Linked DNA regions of Homo sapiens. The protein of the gene in region 2 interacts with the protein of the main gene of each other region in a biochemical or structural test. Each region holds a gene or a part of one and is shown on either strand. Other genes may lie near its edges.

What was found.
Region 1: the proteins of NFIX (region 2) and PAX7 form a complex in vitro, tested with the Homo sapiens proteins (one study listed by BioGRID).
Region 3: the proteins of NFIX (region 2) and SOX5 form a complex in vitro, tested with the Homo sapiens proteins (one study listed by BioGRID).
Region 4: the proteins of NFIX (region 2) and LHX4 form a complex in vitro, tested with the Homo sapiens proteins (one study listed by BioGRID).

The regions. Positions count from the first base shown.
Region 1 is NC_000001.11:18,631,294-18,639,331, forward strand, and holds part of PAX7 (paired box protein Pax-7), read left to right. Parts: 5' UTR 1-310; coding exon 311-395; intron 396-3,009; coding exon 3,010-3,245; intron 3,246-3,817; coding exon 3,818-3,947; intron 3,948-4,943; coding exon 4,944-5,078; intron 5,079-8,038. UniProt on the Homo sapiens protein: Transcription factor that is involved in the regulation of muscle stem cells proliferation, playing a role in myogenesis and muscle regeneration.
Region 2 is NC_000019.10:12,996,203-13,004,240, forward strand, and holds part of NFIX (nuclear factor 1 X-type), read left to right. Parts: intron 1-8,038.
Region 3 is NC_000012.12:23,543,976-23,552,013, reverse strand, and holds part of SOX5 (transcription factor SOX-5), read left to right. Parts: intron 1-5,589; coding exon 5,590-5,698; intron 5,699-8,038.
Region 4 is NC_000001.11:180,258,627-180,266,664, reverse strand, and holds part of LHX4 (LIM/homeobox protein Lhx4), read right to left. Parts: intron 463-8,038; exon of another isoform or gene 435-462; coding exon of another isoform or gene 412-434; intron 274-411; coding exon 71-273; intron 1-70. UniProt on the Homo sapiens protein: May play a critical role in the development of respiratory control mechanisms and in the normal growth and maturation of the lung. Binds preferentially to methylated DNA.

The DNA.
Region 1 (8,038 bases), on a different chromosome or scaffold from region 2:
CTTCTGGCCGAGGCCAGCCGGCAGAGGCGGACTTGGGGTTGGAGTGTTTGTTTGTTTGAACTTCCTCGTCGTCGCCACCTTCCCTCCCCCCAACCTCCACCCCACCTCACCCCCCTCCCCAGCTTCTGGACGCGTTTGACTGCAGCCAGGGGTGGGGGGTGGGGGTAGGGAGTGTGTGTGGAGGGGAGGGAGAAGAGGTTAAAAAAAAGAAGACGAAGAAGACGGAAAGAAAGAGATCGCAGCAGGGGTGAAGGGAGCGGACGGGAAGCGATTTTTGCCGACTTTGGATTCGTCCCCGGCGTGCGCAAGAATGGCGGCCCTTCCCGGCACGGTACCGAGAATGATGCGGCCGGCTCCGGGGCAGAACTACCCCCGCACGGGATTCCCTTTGGAAGGTAAGAACGCCCAGGCTGGCCTCGCCGCGACTCCGCCGCCCGGAACTCGGGGTCCTTGGAGAGGCTGCGGTCTCCAGGGGACGGTGGCGGCGCCGGCGATAGCAGAGGGATCCCGTTCTCTTCTGGGTCCCAGTCCGGGCGCGGAACCCAGGGAGTTTCTGGGACCCATACTTGTCCGCTTCTGCGTGGGTTTCACTGCCCGGCGGCCTTCGTTTCGCAGGTCGCTAGCTGCCGGTCTTTACCCGCAGGGCTGAAATTCTGGTAGATTTGGACTCCTAGTAAATATCAGGTCCTGGTGAATTTCAGCTCTTTCCACTATTTCCAGACACTTCTTCCCTGACAGTTTCTCGGCTCTCCTGGCTCGCTGGCTGCCAGCTTTCTACTCTTGTTTTGAATTATTTTTTCCACCCCCGGGATTGGTCTTCCAGTCCTTTATTTCGAACCACCTACCATGGGTGATACTTTATATGCCTCAACTACCACGGCTATCCATTTCTTCCGAAGCCACAGTCAAACACTCCTGCTTTTCCGCCTGGAAACAAACTAATTGGAAATAATAATTAGTAATGATTTTCCCCCTAAAACTTTTTACTCGGGCTTCCGCACTCTGGAAATCTCCCGGGAGAGAACCTCTAAACGGCGAGGTTTAGAGAACCTCTAAACGGCGAGAGGGGCACGGCAATGTCCAAACGAGAAGAAAGAGCTGATTTTGTAAAGCGTCCTTCCTAAACATCCAGCGCCCGCCCGGGGAGACCCGATAGGACGGGCGGCGGCGAACCGGGTCCTGGCTGGAGAAAAGGCTGGGAGCGCACAGCGGAGAGACCCGCTCCTGTGTTTTTGTTCTGTTTTCTTTTTAAACTAATGGAAGGCCTCAACCTGTCACTGAGGGATCATTTGGCTTCTGAGGGTAGGTAGCCTAGGGTGTCACAGAGAAGTCATTAGAAATATGTGCGACTTTTTTTTTTTAAATTACTCTTCCTGTGATCGTTTGAGTCCCTGGCGCGTGAGGAAGGGGAGAGGAGGCAGGGAGGGGGTGGGTGGGCTGGCAGCCTGCGATCCGGGAGGAGCTCCCTTGGGCAGCGAGACGGCGCCGGGTCCCTGAATTAGACAGAGGCGAAGAGAGCGGCTCCGTGATCAAGTGCGCGCCGGCAGCCACGCAGGCGGGAGAGCGCGCAAACCCGGGGATTTGCAGTGGCACTCTCCTGTAGCGAATGCAAGTAAAACAGGCGGCTGAGGACGCGCGGCGGATTAGAACAATATTTGCCCAACATGACGCAGAATACTGAGGAGAGCCGAGTGCCGGTCGCTAAAGAGGCTCTTGAATATAAAGTTGGGCGCTCGAGAGCTCTTGAGCGCTAATGGCATATCCCGCCACGGAGACCGAGTGACTCCGACTTTGCGACGCACGATTTCTGATTAAATCCGAGAGTGGCTTCAGACACCGACTTTTACAAAGAGAGGTGGGGGGACCGGGAGAGCGAGGGAGGGGGCGGTAGGAACGGCCCAGCAGCGGAGCCTCTTCTCGCCTCCTCCCTTTCAATTACAGTCAGCTCCCTCCACTCCCGCGGCTGTGAAATCGTTCTAATCTTCCAGATCTCCGCAGCCGCTGAGTCCCCAAATTGGGGGGATCGAGGCCGGATTAGTGCGCTGGGTGTCCCCCCAATCTTCTGTGAGGAAATTGTGTAGACTTTGCATTAAGGCAACCAGGCGTTCTCCCCTCCCCAGCACACACCAGTGATGCCTGTCTTCCCGGTTCCCAAAGTCACCCCCACCCGGGGGGACTGTGTCCCATCTGCCTACCAGCCTCGCAGAGCCTGCAGGCACAGTTCATGGATTTGTGAGGCCAAGTCGACTATTTAATTTAGGAGCTTTGGGGCAGTAGTGTCCTAAAATTGTCCCAAAACGAAATTAGGACTTCGAGGGTGGTTAGAAGCAAGGAGAGTCACCCAAGGGACAACCAGGTGCCCTTGGAGGCAGCAGCCAACAGCATATGTCACCCGTCCCTCGGCTGTGCCTCAGCTGTTCCCTGGGACAGTTCCACGGCTCTAGCCAGAGCTGTAAATGTAGTAATCAGCCAGGCCTTTCTAGCCCCCAACAAACTGGATCATTCATGACTACCAGGAGCGTAGAACTGAGCAGATGAGCCACATCACACCCGTTATTGGCCTCTCCAAGACGCAGGCAGGCCTGCAGCCCAAGCTTCGGCCTGAGGGACAGATAGTCATTGGTCCCAAGATCTCTAAGGCTCTACCAGCCTGGTGGCTCTGTCTGCAGTCTCATCTTCATCTCTCTCCCTCCCCTTCTTAGCAGCATTCGAATCCCCCAGGTGTGTCCTCATCCCTCGTAGTGTGGCAGGAGTTGGGGGACACAGCATCTGGGGAGACTCTTGCAGCTGTGACTCCTCTATCCATCTCTGCAGGAGATTTCCTAGATTTATGACAGTTGTTTCTCAAACTACCTACCTACCGAAGCCCCAGTGTGAGGACCACCGGGATTGCTGTCTGAGGTCTTGGGGCTCAAACAAACAAAACTGGAGTCAGGGAGTGTACTCAGTGTCTGCTCTCCATCCTCACCCTGCACCTCTCTCCTTCTGCATCTCCCCTCCCTTCTCCAGTGTCCACCCCGCTTGGCCAAGGCCGGGTCAATCAGCTGGGAGGGGTCTTCATCAATGGGCGACCCCTGCCTAACCACATCCGCCACAAGATAGTGGAGATGGCCCACCATGGCATCCGGCCCTGTGTCATCTCCCGACAGCTGCGTGTCTCCCACGGCTGCGTCTCCAAGATTCTTTGCCGCTACCAGGAGACCGGGTCCATCCGGCCTGGGGCCATCGGCGGCAGCAAGCCCAGAGTGAGTGTCTTTGCCACAGAGGCTGGCAGCTGGCTTCCTATAGTCGGGGGCTCCTGGTTGTGGCCCCTCTTACTACCTCGTGGCACCAGGCTGTAGGAAAGTACAGCTGGAGGGTGTCTTCTACTCCCAGATGTCCTCCCATTGTTTTCCTATTATTTGAATTTCTCAGAGATGGAGCTAAGTGAGGTCTAGGTTGTGCAAGACCTTGAGGCCAATGAGCCATTCCTGGACTGTCCCCACATTTGCCTCAACCCCTGTCACCTTCCAAGACCAGAAGACATCTTCTCTCAGTCTTTCCTGAGATAATGACGGGGACCCTGGGGGTCCTAATTAGAGTTTTTTATTGCCTATCCATGTCCCACCCCACCCCACCTGGCCAGACCCCCAGCTGCCTTCCTGGGAGCCAGGAACCGGTTTCTTGAAAGGATAAAGCCAATCTCTTGGGGGATGGGGGGACACAAGGTAACCAGAACCACCAGCCTGGTCTGGGGCTCTTAAGAGGTGATATTAAAAGTATTTTCCTCCCCCCATCCCATCTTTCCACTCCTACTCTCCCACCTCCACCTCTGAAGCAGGTGGCGACTCCGGATGTAGAGAAAAAGATTGAGGAGTACAAGAGGGAAAACCCAGGCATGTTCAGCTGGGAGATCCGGGACAGGCTGCTGAAGGATGGGCACTGTGACCGAAGCACTGTGCCCTCAGGTGAGAAGGCAGCTGAGCCGGCAGAGCTGGCCCAGAGTGTGGCCAGGGGTCCAGTGTGGAGGGCTGGAGGTGGGAGAGAGGGGAGAGGAGATGATGGCTGACTGTGAACTTACTGAGAAGTTGGGAGGAAAGGAGTACAGAAAGGCAGAGTTAAGGCATAGGAGTAAATCAAAACAGAATGGAATAAGATGGAAAGAAGGAATAGGGAAAGAAAAAAAGTTAAGAAAGGAGAGAGAAATAAGAAAGGGAGGAAGAAGGAAGGAAGGAAGGTAGGAAGGAAGGAAGGAAAGAAGGAAGGAAGGAAGGAAAGCAGGCAGGCAGGTGGGCAGGCAGGAATGGGCAAAAAGTTAACCTAGAAAGCTGGATGATAAGAGAGCCCCCCTGGAGGCTTTTTCGGAGAAAATGGCTTCAATAGATGGATCTGTCCTAGGAGGGTGGATGCCCATGGGCTTCCCTAGACCACCGTCTCAGAGTTATGATTTCTGCTGTCGCCAACACCAGCCATTTGAGTCCTAAATTTGGAGGTCCCAAACCATACTGCCTGTGAGAGAGAAAGTGATCTGTTGTGTGTGTGTGTGTATGTGTGTGTGTGTGTGTACATGTGCATTCAGGCACGCAGGGCCAGAATGCACACCTGAGTGTGGGAGTGGCAGCAGGAGCTGGAGAGACTCCAGAGAGGCCCTGGGACCTCTCGGGGGTGTGGGTGGAAGTGCACCTAGGCAGGTGTTAGTGTAAGGCACGAATGCATGCAAGCATCTGCATAGAAATGCACAGTCTAACCACCCTGTGAGTGCCCGGGGTGTGAGTCAGGCTTCTCCAAGTGGATGCTGGTTATGGAGTACGTGTCAATGCCTAAATGCCTGTGTGTGGAAGAGGGATGAATGGATATCTGTAAGGAAGCAGGGGGCTTCCTGACTTTCTCCCAGGGGCCCAGGCCACCGCTCGCTCCTCTGCTCCAACAACTTATACTTGCTCTTTTGCCTTTGAATTTCTGAGGTTTAGTGAGTTCGATTAGCCGCGTGCTCAGAATCAAGTTCGGGAAGAAAGAGGAGGAGGATGAAGCGGACAAGAAGGAGGACGACGGCGAAAAGAAGGCCAAACACAGCATCGACGGCATCCTGGGCGACAAAGGTAGGGAACTTCCCTGGGCTGCGAGGCCCCAGCCCGGGTTTTCCCACGCTCCGGTGTGCGGGCCAGTGGTTCGCTCCCGCCGCCGGAGCAGGCGACCAGAACTCCAGCGGAGAAACTCTCATGCTGCGGGGCAGCTGGGAGCCGCTCAGGCTTTGCCGACAGCGCCCCCTCGGTGCGCACCCCGGATGCCGGCTAGATGCGAAGCCCGCGCCTTCTTTGCGCTATGGAGGCCGGGCACGGACGGCCTGTGAGTCCCGGGAGAGCCCGGCTGCGGGGCTGCGCGCCTGGTCTACCCCAATACTGCGGGGAGTGCGTCCTCCCGGGCTGGCGTTTTGGCTGCTACTCTCGGCGTCGATCAATTATTTATAGGAAACTTGGGCAAGGGGGCGGGGGACGGGAGGGAGGGAGAGAGGAAGGAGGAGCCGGCCCGCGGCTCCCTAAATGAATTTGTTAACCAGACCCCCACACGCTCTCTAAACGGTCCCTTGAAACCCCGCCTGACAGTTGACTGACCGCTGCAATCAATAAAAATTAGCCAGGGCCGCCGCCTGACTCAGCCCCGCGTTGCCAGGGCGGACTGGGGGACAGAGAGTGCCTTCCTCTGTGGCGTGCGCCGGCAGGGCTGGGAGTGGAGGCCAAGTTCCCAGATGCCCAGGGTCGGAGGATCGCAGTGGGGGAGAGACCCAGGCTCCACACACCCTCTCCCCATTCTTAGCACGGCTTCCGCGGGCAGGCTGGAGTCTGAGTCCTGCGCCATGCTTTTTCTCAGGATCAGCTAAGGAGGGCGTTTAGTTTTCAAGCGCCCGGAAGCCCGGGAAAGGGGATTGTGCTTTTGTTTCTTGACGGGAGGAAGTTTCGAGAGAAGGAAGGGAAAGTTTTTCCTCATTACCCCCTCCCCTTCCTCATTGCCCTCATAATTCCCCTCCTAAGTCTCTTTGAGACTTGGTAAGTGCACGTTAAGGGGCGACAGGGAGAGAAACAGAAATGGAAGACCCAGAGTCACAAAGACTGACAGTTAAAGAAAAGGCCCCAAACACATACGCGGAGAGGCGGCAGGCTGAGGGAATCGGAAAGACAGTGGCCATGGGAACCCGCAGACTGATGGCTTTGGAAAAAGTGGCGAGTGCCCTGGAACCTGAAAGCTTGCAAAAAGCCAGTGTTGTTTCAGTCTCCCTTCAGAGGTTTCTCCCAGCACCCCTCTCCTCACGACCCAAGCACTCCTAGCCCAGGTCTCTCTCCAGTTCTCAGAAGACCCTCCCAACCTTGAAGATGAACTTCACAGACAAAGCCGGCTTACTAAGACAACTCCCATCTACGCCCAGCCCCCACAGGCGTGGTCCGAGGAGGAAGGATGGGTGGCCGGGCAGCCCCGTGTGACAGCGGCCTGGAGCGAAGGGAAGGGGCGGCCATTGACAGACAGGGCCCCTAGTGATGCCGCAGTCCCGCCCGGGACAAAAGGGCGAGGGAAGAAAGGGAGCCAGCTGTGCCGGGCGCCCCGCTGTGCCCGGCCTGCCGAGGGGCCACGGGTCTGCGGCGGGAGGCAGCCCTGCACTGCCAAGCGGTCCTTGGCTAGGCCAGTCGGCCCAGAGCCCTGGGACACCTGCCGGGGGACCCAGTCCTTATTTCAGTTCCCATTGGAAGGAGACTAGATGGACTTTTTGTGGGTTGTGGAGGGGAGGCATAGAACTCGAATAATCTTTCCTGGACAAATAATCTTTCCTGCACAACAAACAACTCTTCTGAGGTTATCCCAGGGAGAAGCAGAGGAGGTTTGGTTTTCCTTGGAGAGACTTTAATTGTGTTTGCACGCAGGGAGTATATCCAGTTCAATCTGTGAGGAAGCACAAATAGGTAAATTTCCTCTGAGAAAAAAGGGAAGGGAAGGAAAGGAAGAGGATGGAAAGATCGTGCGGTTTGGAGGATTCCTCTGATTCCAGGGAATGCGGGGCGTTCCATGCTGGCCTGTGCTCACCACACCAGCTAACAAGCCACTTTGCTGGATAGAGGTTTTCCCTGCAGCAGAACCAGGAAGAACCACGTCTCCAAGGGTTTAAAGTGGAGCCTGTGCCAGATGGGGGAGGCTGAGGACACAGGTGCTAAGTCTAGAGGAGCTGAAGAAATGAAATGATCTTATGCAGTGAGCCTGGTCTCCAGAAAGTCCCGCAGTTTTTGCGTGACAGTGGGTGTGCTGGGTGCGCTGATTGTGCTTTGAATGGCTGTGTAAGCGCAAGCATCTCTTAGTGTGACTGTTTACCCACGGGCCTTCTGATCTGAATGCTGTAGGCCATATATCTGTGCAAATGGGATTCAGCATAGATGTGCAGGGAGTGTGTAGATGGGTGTGAATGGGCAATATGATGGTGCAGATGAGAGAGGGCCATCTATCCATCTGTGAGCAAATTGTATCCGTTTCCTATTTGAGTTCCTGGGCTGGTCGGCAGGCACCCCTGTGAACCCCTCATCTCTCTTCCAGGCCCCAGACATCAGTTTCATGTCCAAGTTAAAGGTGAAAAGACCTTCCAATCTCCATCCGAGTAATCCAGGTAGGGAGAGGCAGAGATGCCCCATGGCCAGAGCAGGGGGAGTTGTGCACACCCACAACTTTGTTTTGGCTTCTTGCTCTTGAAAAATGCTTTCTCTGGGGGAGTTGCCCCTCTCATGGCAGGGAGCCACCAAAGAAGGGGTTTAAGAGCTCTCCTCTTTAAGCACTAAAGAGAGATCCCTCCCTGAGTCCGTTTTTTCCTATCGTCCGCTTGGCATTTAATAATGTTAAGACTTATTAGAGCTGGTAATGAAAACTGGGACTGCTGAATAGGAAACTGTGTTGGAGAGGGGTGTAATAGCTTCCAGGCATGGTAAGAAACTATTTATCCGCAATCAGTTCTCACTCTCAGAGTTTGAAGCACAAACGTTAAGTTGAAGGGTTTTAAAGCAGATTAAATTGAGCTTTTATTTCTGTG
Region 2 (8,038 bases):
ACTCCGGCTGACCTGTGGGCTACTGTAGCGCGCACCCGGGCAGCGTGGTCGCTGGCAGTGTTTGCGGGGTTGACAGAGTGGCAAGAGGGTGGTCCCGAGGGCGCAGAGGGGACACTGGGTCCCGCGACGCTTCCTGGGGAGGGCGCAGCGGTTCCCGAGGGTGGCAGTGGCCGGCGTGCGTGGCGGCGGCCCTTGCGTGCGGCCGGGGTGCCTGGGGTGGGCCGAGCGGCCCGGGCGTCTCCCCAAAGTCTTTGTTTAGGCCTCACATGGGAGCGGGGCTAAGAAAATGGCGGGGCTCCCAAATTTCGGAGGGGCAGGGGAGGGGAGAGGGGGGCGGGCGCGCTGCCAGCGGTGGCCGCGCCTCTCCGACCCCGGACGTCGCAGCCTCTGCCCCCCCACCCCCAAACTTTCCTCGGCGCAAACTTTCTGGCCCCAGCGACCCGGGCTGCTGCGGAGTGGACCCGGCAGGCCTGGGGAATCCCGTCCCGTCGCCTGGAGGCGGGAGGGGCGGGAGGCAGCCGTGGACACAGCCGACAGTGCTGCGGCCACACCGTCGGGTCAGCCTCGGGCACAACAGCGCCGACCTTGGCGCGTTGCTAGAGCGCGTCCCGCCTGCAGCGAAGTTCCCTGCGCGGCGCACGGCTGCGGCAAAAGCTTCGAGGATGCCTGTCGGGCCACCCAACTCTCCCTGGGCTGTGGCCTGAGGCTCTAAGAGGGCACAGAAGCTGCCCAGAGTCCCACAGTGGCCCTGACAGCGTTGCCTGCAGGGCCAAGCCACAGCTGGTAACAGTCTCCGAAGAGGGGACATCTAGGGGCTGCTTAGCCCTGCTGCCAGCCAGGCCTGCATGTGGGGGTTCTCTAGGCCAGGCCCTAATTGTCCCCTCTGCCCAGCCTGATCCTTGTCAGCCATGTGCCAAGTGTGTCCACAGCTTACAGTGGCAGTCCACATGGGTATGGCTCCTACTTTGTCTGGGTCCTACCGGGAGTGTGCAGTGGTGTCAAGGGGCGAGGGGTTTGTCGGGGTGTGTGTCAGCTGTGGCTACACCACACTCCTGTATGCACAGGTGAGAGTGTATGCAAGTGTGAATCAATCTAGAGTCTGTGTGTAGCCCCTGTGGGCCGGCCATGGGCAGGCCTGCGTGGCATGGCCGTGTGTGTGGCCCAGGGAGCGGGTTTTCCTGTAGAAAGCAGGCCCAAGTACGTGTTGGCGAGGGCGCACCGGCATGCATACATGTTGCAGTGTGCATGCAGGTGTGAGCAGGCACCCTGAGCACCATGGCAGTGTGGGGAACCCCCACATCTGCACCTCCAGTTCCACGGCCACTCCATGTTGGGCGCCCCTCACAACAACTGCCTACCCAGCGGTGTCTGAGCTGGGCCTCTTTGGTGCTACACTTGGCTGGGCTGTGTGGCCGATGTTTGGGGCCTAGTGGAACCAAGACCCCACGCTCAAGCAGCCCCTTGCCCACCAGGCTGCCAGCCCGGCCTCCCATGCCAAGCACGCCAGACATCTGAGCCTGCTCCCCCATGGCTTGGGTGAGACACCAGCCCCTCAGATTTCACAGCACCCTGGGAGAGAAAATGCCTGTGGATACGCCGGTGACATGGCTAGGAAGGGGCTGGGGCGGCTGCGAGACCCAGGGCGATGGCCGGTGCTTGGCTCTGTGTGATTGTAGGCCCAGGTTACGACAGTTCCAGTGTGCCAGGATGGCTGGAGAGGGGAGTGGGCATGGTGTCTCCAGGCTGCCAGCCCTTCATGGTGGGCAGGGAAACCCTTCAGCTCTGGGCAGGTGGCTGCTGTCGGCTGGTCAGTGGGGTCTGGCCTGCCCCTCCCTAACAATCACATCTCTGTTTTTACAAATCTTTCTGCTTCCATGGTTTGCCCCGCTGGTCTCTGTTTTTATGACAACCTCTTTCCTTTGCTGTCTTTTTCTCGGTCTGTTTTTATCGGTCTCTGGTGTATTCTGCCCTTTTCCATCTCTCTTTCTCCATCTCTGTCCTTTTGTATGTCTCTGACTGTCTCTGTCTCTGATTCCAGTTTTGGCCCCATCTCTGCTCCCCCCTCCACTGGCGTCTCGGACTCTCTCTCTCTCTGTCTCTCTGGCCTGCCTCTCTCTCTTTCCCTCTCTCTCTCTCCCTTTTCTTTTTTTCAAACCAGAATTGGCTTCGATTTTAAAGTCAATAAATGATTGAGCAGGAACGAGCTTGGAGCAGCGGGGCCCTGGCGGGGAAAGGTACTGTGGGCGAGGGGGAAGGGCGGGGGGAAAAATCTCCTTCTAGAAAAAGCATCGAAATTCAGGGCGGCCGGGTGGGGCGGTTCCTGGAGCTGCTGGAGTCCATTGTAGCCACAGTCCTGAGTCTCAGGCGGAGAGAGGGGTGGGGGGTGGATGGATGGACCCCCATCCCCATCCCAACCCTGCCAAGAAACAGAGACACAACCAGGATGTGAACTCACGTACACCACCATCACCGCCAAGATGGGGATGTAAGTGTCCTGTTCACACCGATGTCCAGACCCACGACCATCGACGAGCCTACAGACCTACGGACACAGGAAACCGACGACTTGTGTTCACACTGTCACACACACCCATTAACACACACGCACCTCTTGAAATGGGACACGTATATTGGTGTAGGCTTAGCGACACAGCAGTACCTCTTTGACGCACGTATGGACACAGGAAACTGTGGACTTGTGTTCACAACCACCCCCAGCGCACACATAAACACTCACAAACCCCTCGAGATGATACAGATAGCGACGAAGGCACATGGAGACCACGACACCTCCCAGACTCATGGAGCCCTGAGCACATGCTTGGATACAGGTAGACACAAATGTGTGTTCACCCCCACACATGCTCACATGGACCCAAGGACGGACAGGCGGATGGATGGATACACATCTTTACACAGAGACATAATGCAGTTGGCTCGCTCAGGTGTGTACACAAATAACTTTTCTTTTTCTATTTTTTTTTTTTTTGAGACGGAGCCTTGCTCTGTCGCCCAGGTTGGAGTGCAGTGGCGTGATCTCGGCTCACTGTAACCTCTGCCTCCCGGGTTCAAGCAATTCTCTGCCTCAGCTTCCCGAGTAGCTGGGATTACAGGTGCCCGCCACCACGCCCGGGTAATTTCTGTATTTTTTAGTGAAGATGGGGTTTCACCATCTTGGCCCGGCTGGTCTTGAACTTCTGACCTCGTGATCCACCTGCCTCGGCCTCCCAAAGTGCTGGGATTACAGGCATGAGCCACTGCACCCGGCCACAAATACCTTTTCAAACACACACACACACACACACACACACACAAATATGCACCAATGCGTGCTTCCCCCTCCTTGCCACAGGGATAAAAAGGCAAACATGCCGACATTTGCTGACACACACAAAGACATACATGGCCGCACACACGGATACACCCGCTCTCAGACACGCAGCGACCTACGCCCATTTTCCTGGCCATACAAGCAGCCGAACGTTCCTGTACTTCTGTATCTGCATAGCTCCCCCAACACTCCTTCCATGGGAGGGGGATGGCTGGGGCTTCCCTGATGCCCCCTTCCCCCAGCTTTCTCTCTGGGTCACTCTGGCCACCCCTCTGTCCCTGCGAAGCTATAGCTCTCTGTCCCTGCTCCGGCCTGGTGCCCTGTTTTCATGGCACTTGGCATTTTCTCTCCGGCTCTGGCCCTGCCTGATTCATGCCCACTGCTGGGGTGGGAGGTGTGCCCAGGTGTGGGCCGGGATGGGGTAGCTCATGAGATGAGCTGGGGCTCCGTGAGATGTTTTGATGCTGGGCCGAGCTCAGAGCCGAGGGCTCTGCCGGGAACAGGGTGCTCCAGTCTCTCTAGGGCCTGGAATGTCTTGTGTAGCCTCAAGAGCTCCCAGACGGAGGCTGCGGGAGCGGAGTCAAGGGCTAGGCTTTGCCGTCAGACAGAAATGGGTTCGAGCTCCAGCTCTACATGTTCTAATCTTGCGACCTGAAGCACAGGATTTTCCTGGCCTGTAAAATGGGCAAAAACCAGTGTCTATCTCTTGGGCTGTACTTAGGTTCAATGTGGTGCCTGGCACATAGTGTGTGCTCCATAAATGGTAATTGTTGCCAATTGTTGGTTGTCAACCTCCCAGACCCTCCCAGCTGAGAGAGGGATGCCTCTGAGGGGTAGAAGACAGGATCGAGCACCTCCCAACCATAGATATCCAAGTGGACTGCCTGGAGGAGGAGGAGGCAAGAGGAGAGTTTGGAAGGATGAGAGTTTGCACATGGCCCAGCTCTTTTACCTTTGGATGGGGGCCTGTAGGCCAAGCAGAGGGTGGCACAACTTCAAGATAGGGGAGAGATGGTGGGGGAGAGTGGGGGGCAGGAGGGGAGAGACGAGGCCTCCACTGTTCCATGAGGACCAGATACCCTGGTTGGGGGCCCTGAGTCCTGGTATAAGAGTATGTGTGCACGCATTCATCCAAATGTATGTGGGACAAAGAGACCCGGTGCATCTAGATGATGACTTCAGGGACGTCCCCAAGCTCCAGAACTTTCTGTGTCTGCACCTGGGCGTTGTCACCTGGACCCGCCATGGAGACAGGACATATGTGCAGGACCCTATGGTGGGCACTTGGCTGGATCAGGGCACATTGCGGGTGGGAGCAATGCTGGGTGTTTGGCCGTGGCGCCGTGGCTGTGGGCAAAATGCCCCCGTGGTTGGTGTGTTGACTGCCGTCCTCCCCATCTAACCCACAGGGAGCCTGGCCTTTTAAATCTGCTGAGATATTGTCTCCCCCACCCCCATGAAGCTGGAATCTGGGGACTTGCTGGACCAGAGAGGTAGGGGAGGCTGGGCACTTTCTCCAACACGGTGCTGAGAATGGGCCTTCTGTCCCCTCCCTCCCAGCTGGGGTGGGGAAAAGGAGGGGGGTGTCTTAATTTTCTTGCCCCCAAAGCCCTGGATGTGGGGGCAAGTGGGCCAGGAGGACAGCTGTGAGCCACTATCTGGGTTCTCCCAGATCGGTGTGCATGTTAATCGGCATGTCAGGCCTCAGAGCCACCATTTTCCCGAGGATGTCTGTGTGGCAGCGTGTGTCTGCCCGGGTCCCTCTCCATGCCTCTCCATGTCTCCCAGCGTCCATCACTGGGTGCTACCTGCATGTGACTCCACGGATCATCGCACGCCCTGTCTCTTGTGTATTTGGTAGTGGGGGTCGGGGAGCGTGCCACCATGCGTGTCAGTGTGCCGGATGTAGTCTCTGTGTCACGGTGGCGCTGCGCACGTCAACGGGTATTGGTGTACCGGTCACCATCTTTGTATCTGCGCTTTGTATCTGGGGTGACAGTGTCCCAGCGACATGCGTCACATCTACAGCAGTGTTTTTCTGGGTGTCTGTGCGTCACGGCAAAGAGTGTATCCGTGTGTCTCACACACGTGTTGGCCTGTCCGTGTCAACTTGTGTCCACATACGTGTCAACGCACGTGTCTCCAGTGTCATCACCCTCATATCACTGTGCCTCCTGAGCTTGTCCCCGTGACAATCACTGTGGGTCTCACCCCACGGGCGCCTCTCCTGGGCATTCCCTTGGCCTCCGAGCACCATGTGAGATGCCTGCTATGGCGGCCGGGCAAGCGGCTGGGAGCGGGCTGGCTGCTCAGTCCCTTCCCATGAGGTTGAGCGGCCGCAGTGGCCTTGCTGGGGGCCCCGCCCGTGCCCCTGGCCTGGCGTGGACAGAAGCCCGTTGTGCGGCAGCGAGGTGCGGGCGTGTGTTCGGGCCGCCCACAGGCCTCCCTCTGTCTGCCCGGCGCACATTGATCTTGGCTTCTGCCTGTGTCCGTTCTAGCCTGGCCAGCTGGGTGTCCGGCTGTCTCCGTGGGCCTGAGCCCACTATCCCCGCTGCCCCCACAGCCAGGCAGGCCCTGGGCCCCACACCCCTGGGCCACCCGCCATCCCTCCGAGGCTCTGAGGGCGCGGATTTGGAAACTGAGGTCCCCCCTTCTTTCCCCCTTTCTCTCTCTCTCTTTCCTCCCTCTCTCCTCCCCTCCTCCCCTCCTCCCGCTCCCTCTCTCCCTCTCTCTCTCCTCCTGCCAAACGCGTCTTGGCTCCGTCTGAATATCTCTCCTCCTCGATTTTTGGCTCCAGCTCTGGGCGCGTTCACTAAAGGAAGAAGGGCTAGCTCCCCAACCCCCCCTTCCTCACCACCTCCCCCCTCCCGAGGAGCCCCTCTGAGGGCGGGAGTGGCCTCGTGCAGGGGCCTGGGCCCCCTGAGTGGGCTTGGCCAGGGGGGCACAGGCCTGGCGGGTGAGGGAACAGGGTGGACAGGGCCTGGCAGCCAGAGGGAGGCAATGGGCAGGGTGACTGAGCTGCCCGGCGGGGCGGGCGGGCAGGGAGGGGTCGGGGGCACGGAGCTGGGGTGTCTGGCTTCTGGTGGGGCTGGCAGGCCTCTGTGAGGCGCAGCTGTGCCCAGAACTCCAAGTTGCGTTTGCCACCACTACCGATGTGGCTGCGCCAGCCAGGGAGGGGAGGCGGGTAGCGGGCACTGCGGCGCTCTGCAGCCAATCGGAAGCCGGGGTTGCACTGGGGAGCTCTCCCCCCACTGGGCCCCACCCTGAGGGGAGCCGGGGGTGGTGGCCAGCAGTGGGCAGGGGGCAGTGCCCACCACCATCGCCAAGGACCCTGCCCCCTCAGCTGAAGCTCAGTGCCAGCCTTCCTGGCACAGATCGGGCAAGAGCGGGGATCTGTCTGTCCCCACCTGAATCTGTGTGAGCCAAGCTGGAGGAAAGGACAGCATGGAGGTGCACCCGACCCCCCTGGGCCTTTTAGTCCAAGGCAGGCAGGAGCTAGGGATGGGTTCCAAATTATCCAGGTGGTTCCGTCCAAATATCGGCTTCGGTCGAATCATCTTGGGGAGTTGGGGGGGGGTTTATTCCGGGTCCATCTCACACAAAGTCACACACTCTCACTGGCACATGCGGGCACAAAGAATCACGCTGACACACACTGGCATGCTGCACCTCCCTCAATCAAACAGACACAGGCGTCCCCATACAAAGAATCTTGCCCTCACTCACAGACACCTTGAGGCACCCGGCCACACCCGAACACATCGATGCGGCATTACACACTCAGGGACGTGCATGTGGGTGCAGACACACGGGACACGCGCAGTCACACGATCACATGCCATGAAGCACACAGCACAGACACAGGCTCTGCCACCGTCAAATGCAGCCCCACAGGCACAGCTAGAAACACACAGCACACACACTCAGTCATAATGTCAGTGCCCAAAACACACACATGAGCACCGATACACCCGCACATGCCACCAAGCACACAGGTACATGCACATGCATGCAATAACACGCTCTCAGACACACAAAACACCCCACACACTCCCTAACCCAGTGTCACCCACCAGGAGTGATTTCACCCATTGGGAAATGTCTGGAAACATTTTTTTTTTTTAGAGACAGACTGTCATCTGTAGCCCAGGCTGGAGCACAGTGGTGCGATCTCGGCTCACTGCAGCCCTGACCTCCCAAGCTCAAACGATCTACCCATCTCAGCCTCCTGAGTAGCAGGGAATACAGGTGCATGCCACCACACCTGGCTAATTTTTAAATTTTTTTGTAGAGACAGAGTCTGGTTATGTTGCCCAGGCTGGTCTTGAATTCCTGGGCTCAAGCAGTTCTCCCGCTTCACCCTCCCAAGTAGCTGGGACTACAGCCGAGCACCACCATACCCAGCTAATTTTTAAATTTTTAGTAAAGATGAAGTCTGGCTTTGTTGCCCAGGCTGGTTTTGAATTCCTGGGCTCAGGTGATCCTCCCGCCTCGGCCTCCCAAGGTGCTGGGAGCCATGAGCCACCATGCCCAACCTGGAATCATTTTTGGTTGTCACACTTGTGGAGGGGGTGCTATTTAGTGAGTGGAGACCCAGGATGCTGCTCAGTCCCCTACAATGGAACCCCTCAACCCTCGCCGACCACAAAGAATGATCCAGCCCCAAATGTCAGTAGTGCCAAGGTTGGAAACCCTGCCATGCATCCC
Region 3 (8,038 bases), on a different chromosome or scaffold from region 2:
TTTCTGAACCATCTTCGACTTTGTAGTACTTCTTAAGAAAACTTGATCTGTTAATACATTTCACTTGATCAGATTGCCTGATGAAACTAACCTACTAAGAAGTTGAGTCAGAATTATACAAGCAACTTTTCATGAAGCAAGCTACCAAATTTTACAAAAGGAAATTAGATTCTGGAACAAAATTATGGGTTTCAATTCATGAGGGAATTCAGAAAGGGAAAAAAAAAAATCAGTATTAGATAAGGCAGATTTTGTGGATACCTAGACCAGAGGATGTATATGGACCTTTCCATCCCCTGAGTTCATATCTCACTATAATTCTCAATGGAGAAAATGAATAGAAAAATTTTCTTCAAGGATTATTAAATTCCAGAATACCAAAGGGTCTATGGCTATTCTCACGGATAAATTCATACTTGATGGAGGTAAAATTAGTGACAGATCTCTTCAACATGTACTTTTGTTAGAGTTAGAGGAAAGTGTGTATTTGTGTGAGTGTGTATGTGTGTGCACACACATATAGTTTATATATCATTTATACATAACTTACAAGAAACCCTTTTCTCCCATTTTCGGTGTTATATTATGTGGGTAGATGATTATTTTCTAAAAAAATTGAGATATTAATAAGCAAGAGTGAAACGAGAGGTTAAAGAGTGGACATGCGCCTTATTTCTTTACACTTAAGCTGATGAAAAAAATCTCCAACTGATAAATCGTTATGACATTATAAGTAATCTTTCATCTTCTTTGGTGGTCTGTGAGGTTCACATAATTGGAGGGTTTTTTGTTTCTTTCTTCCCGTGTCGTTAATATAGTAGAAGACCATAAAGAAGTGCAGCCAGAAGAGGTTTAACTGTTACTGAGTCAACATTTGACAGTCACACTCTATTCTGTCATTTCATGCATGTGCTTTTTATGACTTTTATAGCTTTGTGAGCTTTATTTCAGGGATGTCCATTATGATAGCTGATCCATAGCCTATCTCTTTGTGTATGTGTGTCTGGTGGAGAGCGAAGCTCATCACTTAGCTGAATCCCAGTTTCAGGGAGTAATAGATGACTTATCTACTCACGCACTGTTTAATTTAGGATTAGGTAACTAAGGAAATATCTACCTCTAAAGTACAGTTTGTGTGTTCTTTTGTTTTGACTGCTCTGTAAAATATCAACATAGGATGCCTATTAGAACCTTTGCAAAAATAGTGAATTTTCAGTTGTTTTTTATTTTTTTTAAGTCAAAATAATGGAGCAGGGAAAATTTTTCAGTTTAAATATGTACTAGACTTACAGTCTGGAACTGTAACTCATCATGCCTGAGTATGAAATTGAAATAAAAAACAATGATTGAATATATTGTAAATGATAGACAAAGAGGGGAAATTTCTGAGAATATTTAGAGTTGTTACTAAAATTCCCTTTTTTAGTGCATATTTGGTTATACAGAATAGAGTTTATAATCATAACAGGCTACTTAATACTGAAATTTAACTATTTCTGTAATTCTCACATGTTAGATTCCCTGTCTTTTCAATTTTCCCCACTGACATTTTAAAAATAATATTAAAAGTATATCTATCTTAAAATTTTCAAACTAATGAGAATCTAACACATGTTTAACTATCATTTTACAAATTAGGATTCTGGGACTCGAGGAGGATAACATATTTGTCTAAAGCAGTATGGCTAATATATACGGCAGAGAGTTTGATTAAAATATGATATTCCTGATGCCAAAACTCATTATTTTCTAACCTCAAAAGTGTCCTCTTCCCATGAATCCCTGTGGCCTTTCGCCATTCAGAATGGTTTTTGGCTTAGAAGTATGAATTGATACTGACCACCTCCAATCAACAAAGTGTCCATATCTCTTTAGCTATTTCTTGGCTCCCCTTTTAGATTCCCACCATAGCCTGGGATTATGTGCAAACAGTACACATGCTGTTTTGCATTATGCAAGTCTCTGGATAAGTCACAGAGCACAAGACCAGCTACCAAGTTCCCCAAGTGAATACTAATACGTTAATAATAGTTTTCTGTATGTCAGATTTTGGAGTTACTCATTTGCACCCAGGAAACCATGTGGTCTACAACTGTCTTCTGTCGATGAGATACAATTCACTTCGATCTTGTTTCAAGTCAACATAAAATCAGAAGATTTTTTCAAGTCTGTTTTTAAACAGACTTAACCTAATGTTTCTCCTTGATCTCAGCAAACCTGCAGAGTTGTAAAGATGTGATTAGGCAGATAAGACTCATCTTTGCAAAGGAATCTAGTTGTTATCCCATTGCTAGTTTTTATTCAAGAGAGAAAGCATACAGGTCATCTTGTTTGGCCCATACCCCAGGACTTTTACATGTTGACTACTTTGTTGTAATTAATCTCTTTTTGCCCTCTATTCTGACATCATTCAGCGCATTTAGAATTCTGGCGAGTATTCCTTTAAATGTATAAAAATGTAAAAAGAAGGTAAAGGAGAGAAGACCAATCAATCTTGTCATTTTCATATCAGCATTCCTAAGTGCTGTGCTGGATTTGTGTTCCAGAATGGTGACCTTTAAATGGGGGAATGGGATGCTATTTTTCTGCAGAAACTCTTGAGTAACATGATTTTTATCAGAGCCGTGATTTTTATCAGATTATAAGATCTATATCACCAACATGATTTTTATCAGATTATAAGATCGGTAAAAAATTGTCACTTGTGCCCATCAACATTTATTTGTTTTCCCAAAATCAGTTTCTTTGGTGTTTCCCATTTTCAACATCTTCCCACTTAACCCTCTGCTTACCTGAAATCTACTGTCCTTGTTTTGTTCCATCTGCCTCTATTTAGAAAAGAGTAATTTATTTATAAGAAATTTGAGAATCAAAATATTACCTTTTCCAGTAGTATTTGCTCTTATGAAAAAACACTTTTAGAAAAGGAAATATTTAACCCACAGAACAGAACCTCAAATGGTTGAGCTTTATACATGATAGTGCATAGGTGAACTCTTTCAGAGAGGGGATGGCTGGAGACAGGTGGGATTAAAAGGATAGAGTAGGAGAGATTTTTCTAGTGTGTCAGCACTTCTGCTTTATAACATTTGGCTGAGTCTTTCCCCTCCTATATGCCATTCAATTGAATTTAAACTTTTGAGAACTATTCTTAAATCCCATTCATTCTTTTGGTGGTTCAATATATTACCTAGACACCTAACCACATATAAATTTATATCTACTTTTATACATAAGTACTATGTGTCAGCTTTATAGGATCAGTTGTCATATGGAATTATAGGACAATTATTTTTTACTTAAGTTATTGTCTCCTCACATCAGTTTCTTTTTCTTCTGAATTTATTGTCCACACTTTTTTTAAAAAAAATGTGGCAACGTTATCCTTTTGATTTGCATGCTGTTATAATCTGTTTTAATTAAAGGCATACCTCACATTCTCCATTTCCTGCAATCACCTTTCCTTTTGCCTGTTCTCATGTCTGTTAGCTTAAATTACTATACAAAGGGTTACGAGAAAGTACAGCTTACTGTGTTGACTTCCACTATGTCCCACTGACGTCCTCTTGAGAAGCATAGTAAGTTTTACTTTTGGGTAGCTAACTGAATCATTTTATTAATATTGGGTGCATTAGTGGTGGATAATTATAGGTTACTTATTGTAAAAACTGAGTGTGACTTTCCTGCTCATATTTGTTAATTTTAGTCTCTTGGTAAGACAGCACAGCATCTGTAGAGCTGAACTCAGAACCTTGGAAGTCACTTAACGTGTCGTTCTTTTTCTACTTTGATTAATTTTGCTTTTTCTTCTTGAAAGACTTTGCTTCAGAATGGAAAACTCTCTAGAAAATGTGTAGTATTATTGCCCTATACTGTTAAATCAAAAGCTAAGAGGTGATCCAAGCCCCGTACATTCCTCAAAGAGAGTACAGTAAAGTCTTCATTGACCCGAGGACTATCAGATCATGTTGATGGAATGTGTGTATGTGTGCGTGTGTTTTCAAATGTAACTGTCTTTTGTTTTAACAGCTACATTTACTGTAAAGAAAGTCTGTTAAGCTGGTGTCCTTGATGCTCCTGAGCTCAGCTGAATATATACAGCCGACTCTCTCAGCAAAAGACATCCAAAACATATGAAGCAGCTGAAAACAACAACTTCACACACAAAACAAATCGAGTCAGATTCTACAGTTTTAAATGCGTAACTTATTTCAACTTTAATACTATTTAATTCTATAGAACTAAAGTTAATATAAACTATTTTGTCTCCAGTTTCTCTACTGTATTTTATACTGATTGACAATTTAAAAATAGTTTTCTATTAAATAATGTACATAATTTGATGAATAGAGTACAGGAGTTCCAAGGCCACTGACTTAAGAGATTTTTTAATTTAGTATGTACAGTTGTCACATTGTCAGAGACTTCATTGAGATAAAGCATGTACTGTGTTAAGAATTTCAATATCTCATTAGTTCTTGGTGGGAACATTAGTTGGGCCCTTTACCTGTAATACAATTATCTTACATCATTGATTACTTTCTGTGAACATTTTATTGTGTCAATAGCAGTTCTGCAGTGTATGTCGTTCACTAGTATGATTCATGACTATGTTCCTCAGAAAATGAGGTGAATAATTATAAAGAAACTTGAGATAATGTTATGAGATCCAATGGATGCATTTCTTAAAACTGTTTTGGTGCTGTTTGGTACTACATCATCCTCAGAGCAGTGCTGGAGAGTTCACGAGAAAGTTATCAAGTTTCATTATATGCTTTTTCTGTTCCTAAAGTCACCCAGTTTCTTAATTTGACAGTAATGTCTCATATGGTTTAGATTAAGCATTATATTTTTCTTAAAAATAATTTATTTTGAAATGCTATGTTCTCCATGAATGTGAATCGTGCACTGCATGCTTAAACAACTTGATGTCTCTGTAGATCTAATTTTGGTATATTTGTATCTCAAATAATTCGCCAACTCAATATTTTGGCTTAGCAATCCAAATCAAATTGTGGTCCAAGTAGCAGGCACTCACATTGGATGTACAGAGACTTGACAAGCAATTAGCAATGAATATTTAAACGTCTTCATTACCCTTGCATGAGGAATGCAGATGGCATTTGGGAAGATGGCAACCAGAGGGCACTACTGTGAATTATGTTTCTATTATTTGGTCACCTGACTATTGGAAGACTTTCTCTGGGCTTCACGCCACTCCTATACTTCTACTGTCTGGCCAAAAATAAAGCAGACATTCCAAATGTAAAACAGGTTGCTTCCATGAAATTTCTGTGCACATTTTGTAATTTGGGAAGGTTGTCTCCAAGGATCCCGGCATATATCCCTTAGGCATACCAAACCCAAACGCCAAGACTTTATAGGGGTCTATGAGAATCAGAGTTCCTTCAAAAATCGTGCTGATCATCCCCTTAATGACTTCAGGTTAATGTGCTGAACGTAAAAAGGTGAATATATCAACATTGCATCCTTTCCAGGAGTTAATGTATTATATATGTGGCCCAAAAAAAGAAAGTCTTCAAATAATTTTAATTCCTAGACTGATCTCTCATTATAATTTTTTTAAAGGAAAAAACAACACTGGAGAGTCTGACTCAGCAACTGGCAGTTAAACAGAATGAAGAAGGAAAATTTAGCCATGCAATGATGGATTTCAATCTGAGTGGAGATTCTGATGGTTTGTGAAAATTGTTCATACATATTCTAATAATGCAAGAAAGTGTCTAGGTAGTGCCAATTAAAACTGCTAAAAAATAGACTAGACAGCCACCTCATACCTCATCATTACAATAAGAGGTCACATATACTGAGCAGTCCCCATGTGCCAAGCACTCTGCTGAGTGCTTTGCAGAAATCGTCTCATTTAATTCCTAGTCAACCTAGGATAAGTCCCATTGCAGAGAAAGAGCCTGAGCCTCAGGAGTTTTGAAGCATTTTCCCCAGGTCACAGGGCTCTAAGTGTCAGAGGCAAGAATTAAATTCGAGATGGCATGATTCTAAAGCAAATGCTCAAAATGCTTAGCTTCCCAGGCTCAAGTGATCCTCCCACTTTAGCCTCCCAAGTAGCTGGGATTATAGGTGCATGCCAACATGCCCAGCAATTTTGTTTTTTTTTTTTGAGATGAGGACTTACTTACTATGGTGTCCAGGCTGGTCTCAAACTCCTGGGCTCAAGTGATCCTCCCACCTCAGCCTCCCAAAGTGCTAGTTTTATAGGCGTGAGTTACTGCATGCGGCCTCACTTCCCTATTTCTTGTACCCAAAATGAACTTTTTCAGAAATTTGTTTCTATTGGCTCATTTTTTAAGTTTCTATTTGTCAAGCCCTCACCAGAATACATGGCTCAGAGGACATTTCCACGATAGTTTCTTACATTTTGGAACCCTTCTCCCTAGTGCTATGTACTACATAGTCAAGTGTCGGGCCCACTCTCTATAACCTAACTAGAAACCAGCTGCACAGCTTTATGCTCCCTTCTCATAGGCCTTCAGACTTCTGTTTTCTGTATCATCTCTGAACATTCTAAACATCCACAGTGAGAAGAAATTAAATTGATACTCTGATTTTTAATAGCGTAGCAAAGAGGGAAAAAGAAGGAAGTGCTGTTCTTCTTATACAATACCCTGACCGGGAACATCTCTCTACTGTCAGGTGGCATCCATGCATTTTAAGCATTCCTTTGGCAGTACCGCCCTCAACTTTGTTACTACTACAGGGAAGTTCCCTGCATATAGAGAAGAGTGCACAAAGGCAAACCAGTGAGATGCATACTTTGAGAGGGGGTCCCCTTGAATCCTCCAATATACACAACTGTTTACTCTGTGCCTTGGGCCAATTCTACTTTTAAGACCAGGTCTATACTAATCAAGGGACTAAACAAACCTGAACGTTGAAACACGTAATTCTATCAAAACTGAATTTTACTCAATTGGATTCAATTTGCATTTTTCTGGGTCTAATGTTGCAAACATTTTCTTCTATTTTCAGCTCCACTTAGCTAAGATAAACCTAGCCTATGTACATTTAAAGAGCTTGTTTAGATTTGATGAAGACACATAATGTTCATTTTATTGCTTATGTTGCTGTAAGGTGTAAGAACAAGAAAAGGCAGATGTGCAAATGATCACTTGCTAGTTACAAACCCATTTTAGGAAGATGTTGCCATATATTTGCACTTATTTTGTCAATAAAAGACAATTACGGGTAATAACACATTTCATAAATTTTAAGTTGTATTAGCATGATAAAATATACCCACAGTAATCAGCATTAACACATCAAAGTTTTTGTTGCTGTCATTACCTAAATTCAATCATGCTTGTATGTGAAATATTTTCTACTTTTCATTAAATCAAAGAGCATGTTATTAATGAAAAATATTGAGAAACTTCACCAACAGGTATGCTATGTTTTGAATGTGCTGCTATAGAGGTCTTCAAGTTTGGGCAATTTTGTTTGATTCCTGTGTCTCCAAATTTAAAAATAAAGAAAAGATGAGGAATGAATACAAAGCAAGAAAAGAAAAGCAGTGCTTTTGTTGATAATACAGTCTCTACAAGTCCCCAAAGTATTTTTAAAGTTTTGGATACTATCAAAATACATCTACTTATTTTGTGATAATACCCAGTGAAAACCTACTGTCAGAGTTCTACTGGTTCTCCTTATTTTCTCTTTGCCTAAACTCAAGTATCTTGGAAGCAATTTAATCTGCTGAAGCCATTCTAAGGGGTCACATAAGGCTGGAGGAGTGAATGCAGCTTCCAAAGCTATCGTTGTTAACTCTTGAATTGTGTTTTATCATCTGTGAATCTTACTGATTGAAATGTGACTGTCCATGGGACTCTTTGGATAACTTTAAATATTAGGGGGAAAATTCAAAGGAAATTATTATTTTTCTCATCTTAAACATGTGACTGTAGACTCCTTAAGAAACTAGAGGAATGTAACTGTTCATTTGTTCTTTTCCATACCAGTTTTACATATATTTTGGGGGGCAGACCTGTCATTGCTGTATCAG
Region 4 (8,038 bases), on a different chromosome or scaffold from region 2:
GCACCTCAGGCAGAGGGCGTGGCCCAAACAAAGGCCTGGAGAGGGGACCATGCGGGGCCATGCTGCTTACCGTTCTGCTTGGCTGTCTCGTAGTCTTCCTTGCACACCAGCCGCCCGTCCTCCATGAGGTAGAATTCGTCCCCCGTGGCCAGCTGCCGGTTGCAGATGATGCAAGCAAAGCAGTGCAGGTGGTAGACAAAGTCCTGGGCCTTGCGGACCACCTGGGTTGGGGGGATACCCTGCTGGCAGGCCGTGCATTTTGTGCCGAAGCGCCTGTCAGGGCAGCAGGAAAGGATTAGGGCACACAGGGAGCAAGGGATCTGGCTTCCCCCAACTTCCTGGAGCAGCCTCCCTCCTACCCCACCACTCCGGGACTCCATGAGCCTCACCCCCCAGTCACCCAGAGCTTACCGTCTGGTCCTCTCTGCCTCCATCTAGCTTCATTGCTTTGTGCCTGGGACTCTTCAACCACCAAAGAAGGGACTGATGAGAACTAGAGTCTCCCTCAGGTACCTTTTCCAAAGCTGATGCCCCCGGATTCCAGCTGCCCGATTAACACCCATCAATTCACAGGGGGAGCAGGTGGACTTTCTAAGTCCCTCAAAGCAGGCTGTCTCCCCCTCCACCTCCCAGCTTCCTCACCCTTATGGTTGATCCCAGAGGACATCCTCACAGGGAACTGTGTGTGCCACAGGCTGTGTGTAGAAAGCACCCAGCAACACCTTTTCACACACTCCCAGGGAGGAGGCCCTGCCTGGCCAGGGGACAGCACGCTGCAGAGAAAATGCACTTTGTCAGCAGAGCAAGGCTGTCCTGACAGCTGTTCTCTCTCCTTTGCCTCCATTTCTCCCCTCACCTCCATTCTGCACACACAAAGCCCTCCAAGCCTACCTCCATCCCCTTCCTATGCACGCACACAGCCTGGGGCATGGTGGTTTGGGAAGGGCCCAGGAAGCTGCACTTTTCAGCCCCTACAGCATTCGGGACAAGGAGTCTGCAGATTACAGTTTGGAAAATGCTGCTTCAGACCTCTCCTTGGTCAGCACCTTTCCAGAACAACACCGAGGCAAAAGGAAGCTACCTGCTGCCACCAAGGCAGCTTCTACCAAGCAAGCCACCCCCTGCCAAGGCCGGGAAGGAAGGAGAAATTGACACTTAAAAGTATCGTCCAGTGGGGTTGTTTCCACTCCCTTTCCCCATTCTGGTCATAGAGATCAACAGAGGCACACCGATGGTCATAGGAGACGAGGGAAATTTGGGGGCCGACAGGGACAGTGAAGGAGGGTGCGTGGCTGCAGGTGAGCCTTCCCCGCTTCAGGAGGGAGGCGGGAGGCATTGGGAAAGCAAGGGCAGAGTTTAAAACAGCAATCAACCTAATTATTCATGACATTTCACACAGCAGAACTTTATCTTCTTCAGGATGAAAGACTTCGCCTAATGGATCTGGGGAAGGTTTGATTTTAATGGTCCTTTTAACTAATGCTTATAGGCAGCCTGATTTCCCCTGAAAGGACAGTACATATTTCATCCACATTAATACCAAATAAATTAATTATGGTCATGGCTATCATGATGAATACCAGATTAATGCAGAATGATAGGTCTGTTATGCAGTAATGATACCTGCTGAGGGGGTTATGGGGGCCCGGAATAGGCATGGCCAGCAGCAGCCTCAGACGCCCCCCACCAGGGACACAGCATCCCAGAGAAAAGTGGGGGTTCTCTAAGTCTGCATGGGTAATCCTGAAAGACCCAGAGTGTACTTCAGGGAACACTCTTCTGAGATGGGTATAAGAAGGGTGTTGGGGTGTGAGGGGCTGAGAGGTGGTGGCTTGGGAGGACCCCAGGCTTCTGAATTCCTGGAATGCCTCTTGGTTTTCAGAGAGATGGGGCCCATTTAGAGCAGGAGTTCTCTGCGTGAGGGTCAGCATAGGCCTGTAAACCACCTGCTAAGTTGTTCAAAATTGTGCCTCAGGAGGGGACCTGGGTTTTCATCAGATTCTTAAAGGGATTCAGGACCCAGGAAAGTAGAGTTAATATTTGTTGAATAAATAAATCAGCAGATAAAGCACCATACTTGTAGAGGATGTGCACGGAGATGGCCGAACCTGAGGATGTAGAACAAAGCACACAGTCGGCTCTGGATGGTTCTAGACCTCCCAGAACACAGGTGAGAACCAGGTCCTCCACAACTGCTGTGTAACCACATCACCTGGATCAAAGAGGAAGGCTGGCAGGCACCCACCTCTACTGTGTGTGTGTGTGTGTGTGTGTGTGTGTGTGTGTTATGTGTGTGTGTATAACAGAGAAAGGAAGCCTACACATGTGTTACTAGAGAGTGTTTTCAAAAGGCCTGTATATTTAATATCCAATCCCAGCCAATTTGCAAAGCAGGTACTGAAATGAAACAAGGCACCAGGTGTGGTGGCTCACGCCTGTAATCCCAGCACTTTGGGAGGCTGAGGCAGGAGGATCACTTGAGCCCAGCCTGGGCAATATGGTGAATCCCTGCCTCTACAAAAAATGCAAAAAATTAGCCGGGTGTAGTGGTGTGCACCTGTAGTCCCAGCTACCTGGGAGGCTGAGATGGGAGGATCACCTGAGCCCAGGGAGGTTGAGGCTACAGTGAGCCAAGATCACGCCACTGCACTCCAGCCTGGGCAACAGAGCGAGACCCTGTCTCTAAATTAATTAATTAAAATGAAACAAGGCTTTCATCATGCTTGTTGCGAACCCTCCCAACAAACCACGCAAATCTGGAGAATGTGTCCTAACCAGAGATCCAAGGAGAGGAGGGCTGAGAGGAGACCCCGGAACAGAGGGAAGACCCTTCAGCAGCCTCCTCCACAGGGGCCACACTCTCTCCCACTAAAAAGCAGGCAGGGGGCTTTCAGTCACCGGAGGCCCAGCTGACACCAGCACACCAGAGACATGAAAGATAACGGGGGTATAAATTTAATCTACATACCGACAGTGATTCATGCATGAGGGTGGCAAGTGCACAAGAAAAATGAAAAATAAGTGGACTTCCCCACCAGCGTTTTTTAGCAATTGAAGCAATTTTCCTGATTGTGGGATTTATACTGAAGGGAAGTGGAAGTGGCTCCTCATTACCTTTTCCCCTGGAGCACAGCCAGCGGGACCCTTGCCGAGGGAGCCGCATGCAGCACCTCCTTGGCCCACAAGGCTCCCCCGGCCCAGCCCAGCCCTGCAGATCACCCTCCACCCCATCTCCAGTCAGAGCCAGTGTATCTAGAATACAGGGCATCCTACAGGGGTGTGTCTGTGATGGAGACACTGTCCCCATTCCCAGATCTTAGAATAGCCAGAGTCACAGGTGAGAAGGCCAAAGCCTGGCAGGTCACATGACTTGCCCTGCGACAGGCAATAATGAGACACACGGTCATGCCTAGAATTCCCTGGCCCCACACGAGGTAAAACTGTGAACCCGGCTGCTACACAGAGAACCAGAAGTCTAACCAACTGGACCAAATATGAAGGACGCTGGGGTAAAGAGGGAAAGGCTGGACTCCAGCCAAGGAAGAGGGCTCCCAAGGGCTTTTCCAAGCAGCACCCCTTAACACCGATCACCGGGCACCCATGCAGGGGCACCAAGGGCACTGGCCTCACCCTTCAGAAAGATAAGCCTGCTGCCCAGTCCTGCTAGCCAGGCCTCTGGGGACAACCAGTCCCCCCAGGAGAGCAGCTGGAGCTGATCCAAAACCACAGAGAAAATGCAAGGAAGACTTGCTAATGGCTCATATTATTTTCATCCTCTAACCAACACCACTGGAAATTGTCTTATCCCTGCCCAGCACATAGTAGGCAAGCCACAAAGACCCAATGAATGAATGAATGAATGAACGAATGAGCAAACGAATGAGTGAACGAACGAACTGCTTCTTAAAACATTTGCCTGAGTAGTCAGGGGAGGCTTGGCTCTCCATAATGGCAGCTCTTTTCTTTTCTTTTTTTTTTTTTTTCAAGTTTGGTATTAACTTTGTTCTATTTTTGGTCTAACTTTAAGTACCTAAAGATTTATTTCCACAGGCCTCAGAAAATGGGTAGAAATCACAGGACAATCCCTCTTCCCACCAAAAAAAGTTGCATACTTTGGTAAGTGTTTATCCTAGAGGGAAAAAGCTGAAATTTACATTAGCAGTGCTGTGCAAGATTCTGACATAAATCACGACCTCAAACCAGCCTGCAGTGGAGGTTCTAGTCTTCTGTTCAGGCACTTGGACAGAAGCCATAGCTGATGAGCATGACAGGGAAAAGGAGGCAGTAAAGACAGGTGACAGGCACCTTGTAGGGAAGGAGGATTCAGGAATGCCAGGCTCCTTGGAATGGTGTGCTGTTTTTCCTTTTTTTTTTTTTTTTTTTCCTTTCAAAGTCATCTCTGTAGGAAGGTGCTGGGCAGCGATCCCAGAGAAAGAAAGGTCCAAGACTCCTTTAACTGTCCTGGATGAAGGGCAGTGCTACAGCAGCTAGTACCGGAGACTCTCCTATCTCATGGTTGAGGCAGACCCAGGATAGAATAGAGAATAAAAGGAATGCTTATAGGAAACCATTTTGCATGGAATGCTAGATGGCCAAGCCTCAGCCTTTGGTCCAGTGCAACCCTTGCCTCACTTGTCAACAGTGAAAAATTAGTTTGGTTAGAGGAACCATCTGGAAACACACCAGCTTCTGCTAGCTTCATGTTCATTGCTAGAAAAAGATTAACCAGTGTGAACATTCTGATCTGTTAATTCCTGGGATTGTTTTCTTCCCGAAGGACTGTTTGTTGGTAGGATAACCCCCAAAAGCTCAAAGCTAAAATGCATCATCAGTCCTGGTTGGCAGTTCCTTAAGAATGGACTGGCGGCGTGAGCGAGCTGATATGGACAAGCTGCCCCTTCCTGCAGAACATCAACTGACCTACTATCTCACCCCAAATCTCTGCCTGAGGTATATTTCAGTGAAGGCAGTTAGTTGTGCTTCTCAGAGCAGAGAAGCAGTTTTAAGCTCTTTTCTTTAGGGGTGAGGGGATCTCACTCGGTTGCCCAGGCTGGAGTGCAGTGCCACAATCATAGCTCACTGCACTCGAACTCTCAGTCTTCCCACCTCGGCCTCCTGAGCAGCTAGGATCACAGGCACATGCCACCATGCCCAGCTCATTTTTTAAGACATGTTTTGTAGTGATTGGGTCCTACTATGTTGCCGAGGCTGGCCTTGAATTCCTGGTCTCAAGTGATCCTCCCACCTTGGCCCCCAAAGCACTGGAATTACAGGTGTGAGCCATCCCCTTTGCCTCTGCTGTCATTAGCTTCCCCTCTGCTGGCTCCTTCCATCCATGTACAGGCATGCTATGATCCCTGCCTGCCTCCCTTCTCTACCGCCCACTCCCCGCACCCTTCAGGGCAGCGCCCCACTCATCCAGAGCTGTGCTGCAGCCCAGCGGTCAGCTCCCCTCTCCCCGGCCTCCCGAGCCTCCCGACACACCTGCTCGCCGCCTCCTCCCATCTTGGCCCCCAAAGCACTGGAATTACAGGTGTGAGCCACTGTGCCCAGCCAAAAGCTTTTCTAAGAAGGGCATTAAGTCCCGGGTTGAAATGAGGCCCATGGTTTACTAAACCACAAGACTTTACATCCCACTTGCTGTCGCCATCACACTGCCTCCAGACTGTCTCCTGAGCTCCTAGCCTGAAAGGTGGGTACTGTGACACCTTTTAACAGATAAGAACTGGGGCTCAGAGAGGTGAGGTGCCGACCCCTAGCTCCCAAGGGCAACGAGCGAGAGAACCGGGGTTTGCAGTCGGTGCTTCTGACACAACACAGCGGACATGCGGCGGGCTTCAAGGGCAGCAAACCCGGCCTTGGTGCCCTGACCTAGGCTGGAGCTCGAGGAGAGGGCCTGTCCCCCTCATGTGGCTCTGAGCCCCCTGCATGAGGCTCCCAGCCCTGCAGTGCTGGGGTGGCCAGGGAAGCCCTCACCCCCCAGTGTGTTAACCCCAACACATGTAATTGGCCCGCTGTCCACCTTCCACATCCTCCGGCTGGCCCAGGTGTGGGCAGAGAAGAGCTGAGACTTCTCGGCTGACTCTCATGGGCCACTCTGGACCCCAGGAGAGGACTAGGTCTTGTGTGCTGGGTCCCAGCCTCTGCACCTGAGCTCCGCCTGAGCTCCTGCTGCTGTTGATTTGTCCACCCCTGCTGCTCCCGACCACCTGGCTGGGCTGCTCACCAGTGCAAGACAGGCTTGAGGGTCTGGACCCTGTAGAAAGGGGGCAGCAGGCAGGCCCTGCAGGGACCGAGCCTTCTAGAACCAGGGGTGCATAAATCCTACACCCTGGCTGTCTGGCACATTCCTGATGGTAAGTTCCGACCTCTGAGCAGACCCGCATGATGTACCACAAGTGGGTCACTGAGACGCTGGTAATAAAGGCAGCTGCCATTCTCCTAGCACCAACCTGTGTCCTGTGCAGAGTGGGCCCTGCACATGTGATCTCATCCGACCCTCACCTCCAGCCCTCAGCCCAATGCCCCGGCACTCACCCCGTGGCTGCACTGCCACCCTGCTCCACTTGCTTCCCGCCTGGGTGACTTAACTCAGGCTCACCCTCACTCCCACCACACCCTTGGTGACTGCAGTCCCCACATAGACCATCCTTCCAGGCCCTCCCTCTCAATTCTTTGACCTCCTGAAGGCTGTGGCCTCTACCCTCCCTCCCACCGCTCACTCCCCCAGACCTTGTTGTTACCAGCAACTGCCACAGCTCCAGGGGTCACTTCCAACCCTCCCACCATTGGACCCCGCTGTTCTTCCAGCTCCCCAGGGCACTGACTCACACAACCCAGGGACTGCCCTTCCCCTTGGGCTTGTCACTGTCCCTCGCTTCCCTCCTTCCTTACCCAGCAGACCCCAGGGCGATCCCACCTGTCCCTCCCCACACACCCTGGACCCTGCCCTCTCTCCGCCCTGCGCCTGCCCCACCCCAGCACGGGCATCCACAGAGCCAGGAAAGCAGCCCCTGCCCACCGGACTGATGGTGCCTCGGGGGCCGGGGGTCAGAATGCACCTCCCACCCGCTCCCCCACTGAGCCCCAGGCTCAGCTGCTGGCGCCCTCCCATTTCCCATGGAAGAGGGAAGCCCGGCTTGGACCCTCCCCACCTCCCACTGTGCCTTCCACTCGCACACCCGGGGCCCCAGCCCCTGCCTGCCACCCACAGGTGAACCATGCACCTCCACCAGACACAGCTCATTCCTTCTCACGTAATGAGACTCCCAGCAACCATCCCCTTTGCCTTCTGTGTCATTAGCTTCACCTCTGCTGGCTCCTTCCATCCATGTACAGGCATTCTATGATCCCTGCCTGCCTCCCTTCTATACTGCCCACTTCCTGCACCCTTCAAGGCAGTGCCCTACCCAACCAGAGCTGTGCTGCAGCCCAGCGGTCAGCTCCCCTCTCCCTGGCCTCCCAAGCCTCCCAACACACCTGCTCGCTGCCTCCTACACTGTGCTCTCCGGCCTCTGCTCCTCTGCTCCTGCTCCTCCTCCTCCCACACCTCTTCTCTGCCCACCCCGCTCCCCTGGGGATCTCACCTCCAGCCCAGACCCCTGGGCTCCAGACTGGGGCTCCACTGCCTCTACAGCACATGGATTTGGAGTCCAAAACCAAACTCCTACCAACACCCCCCGCACCCTCTGCTCCTCCCATAGCCCTTCCCATCTCAGACCACTGTAACTTCATTCTTCCCACAGCTCAGGCCAAAACCTTTGGGCATCCGTCCCCATCTGATCTGTCAGCAAATCCTGTTGACTCTACTCAGAATAATAATAATTATTATTACTATCATTATTATTACTATTATTATTTGGAGACAGGGTCTCGCTCTGTTGCCCAGACTGGAGTGCAGTGGTGCAATCACAGCTCACTGCAAGCTTGAATTCCTGGGCTCAAGAGATCCTCCCGCCTCAGCCTCCTGCGTAGGTGAGACAATAGAAGTGAACTACCACGCCCAGCTTCTACTCAAAATTATATCATGTTGGGGACC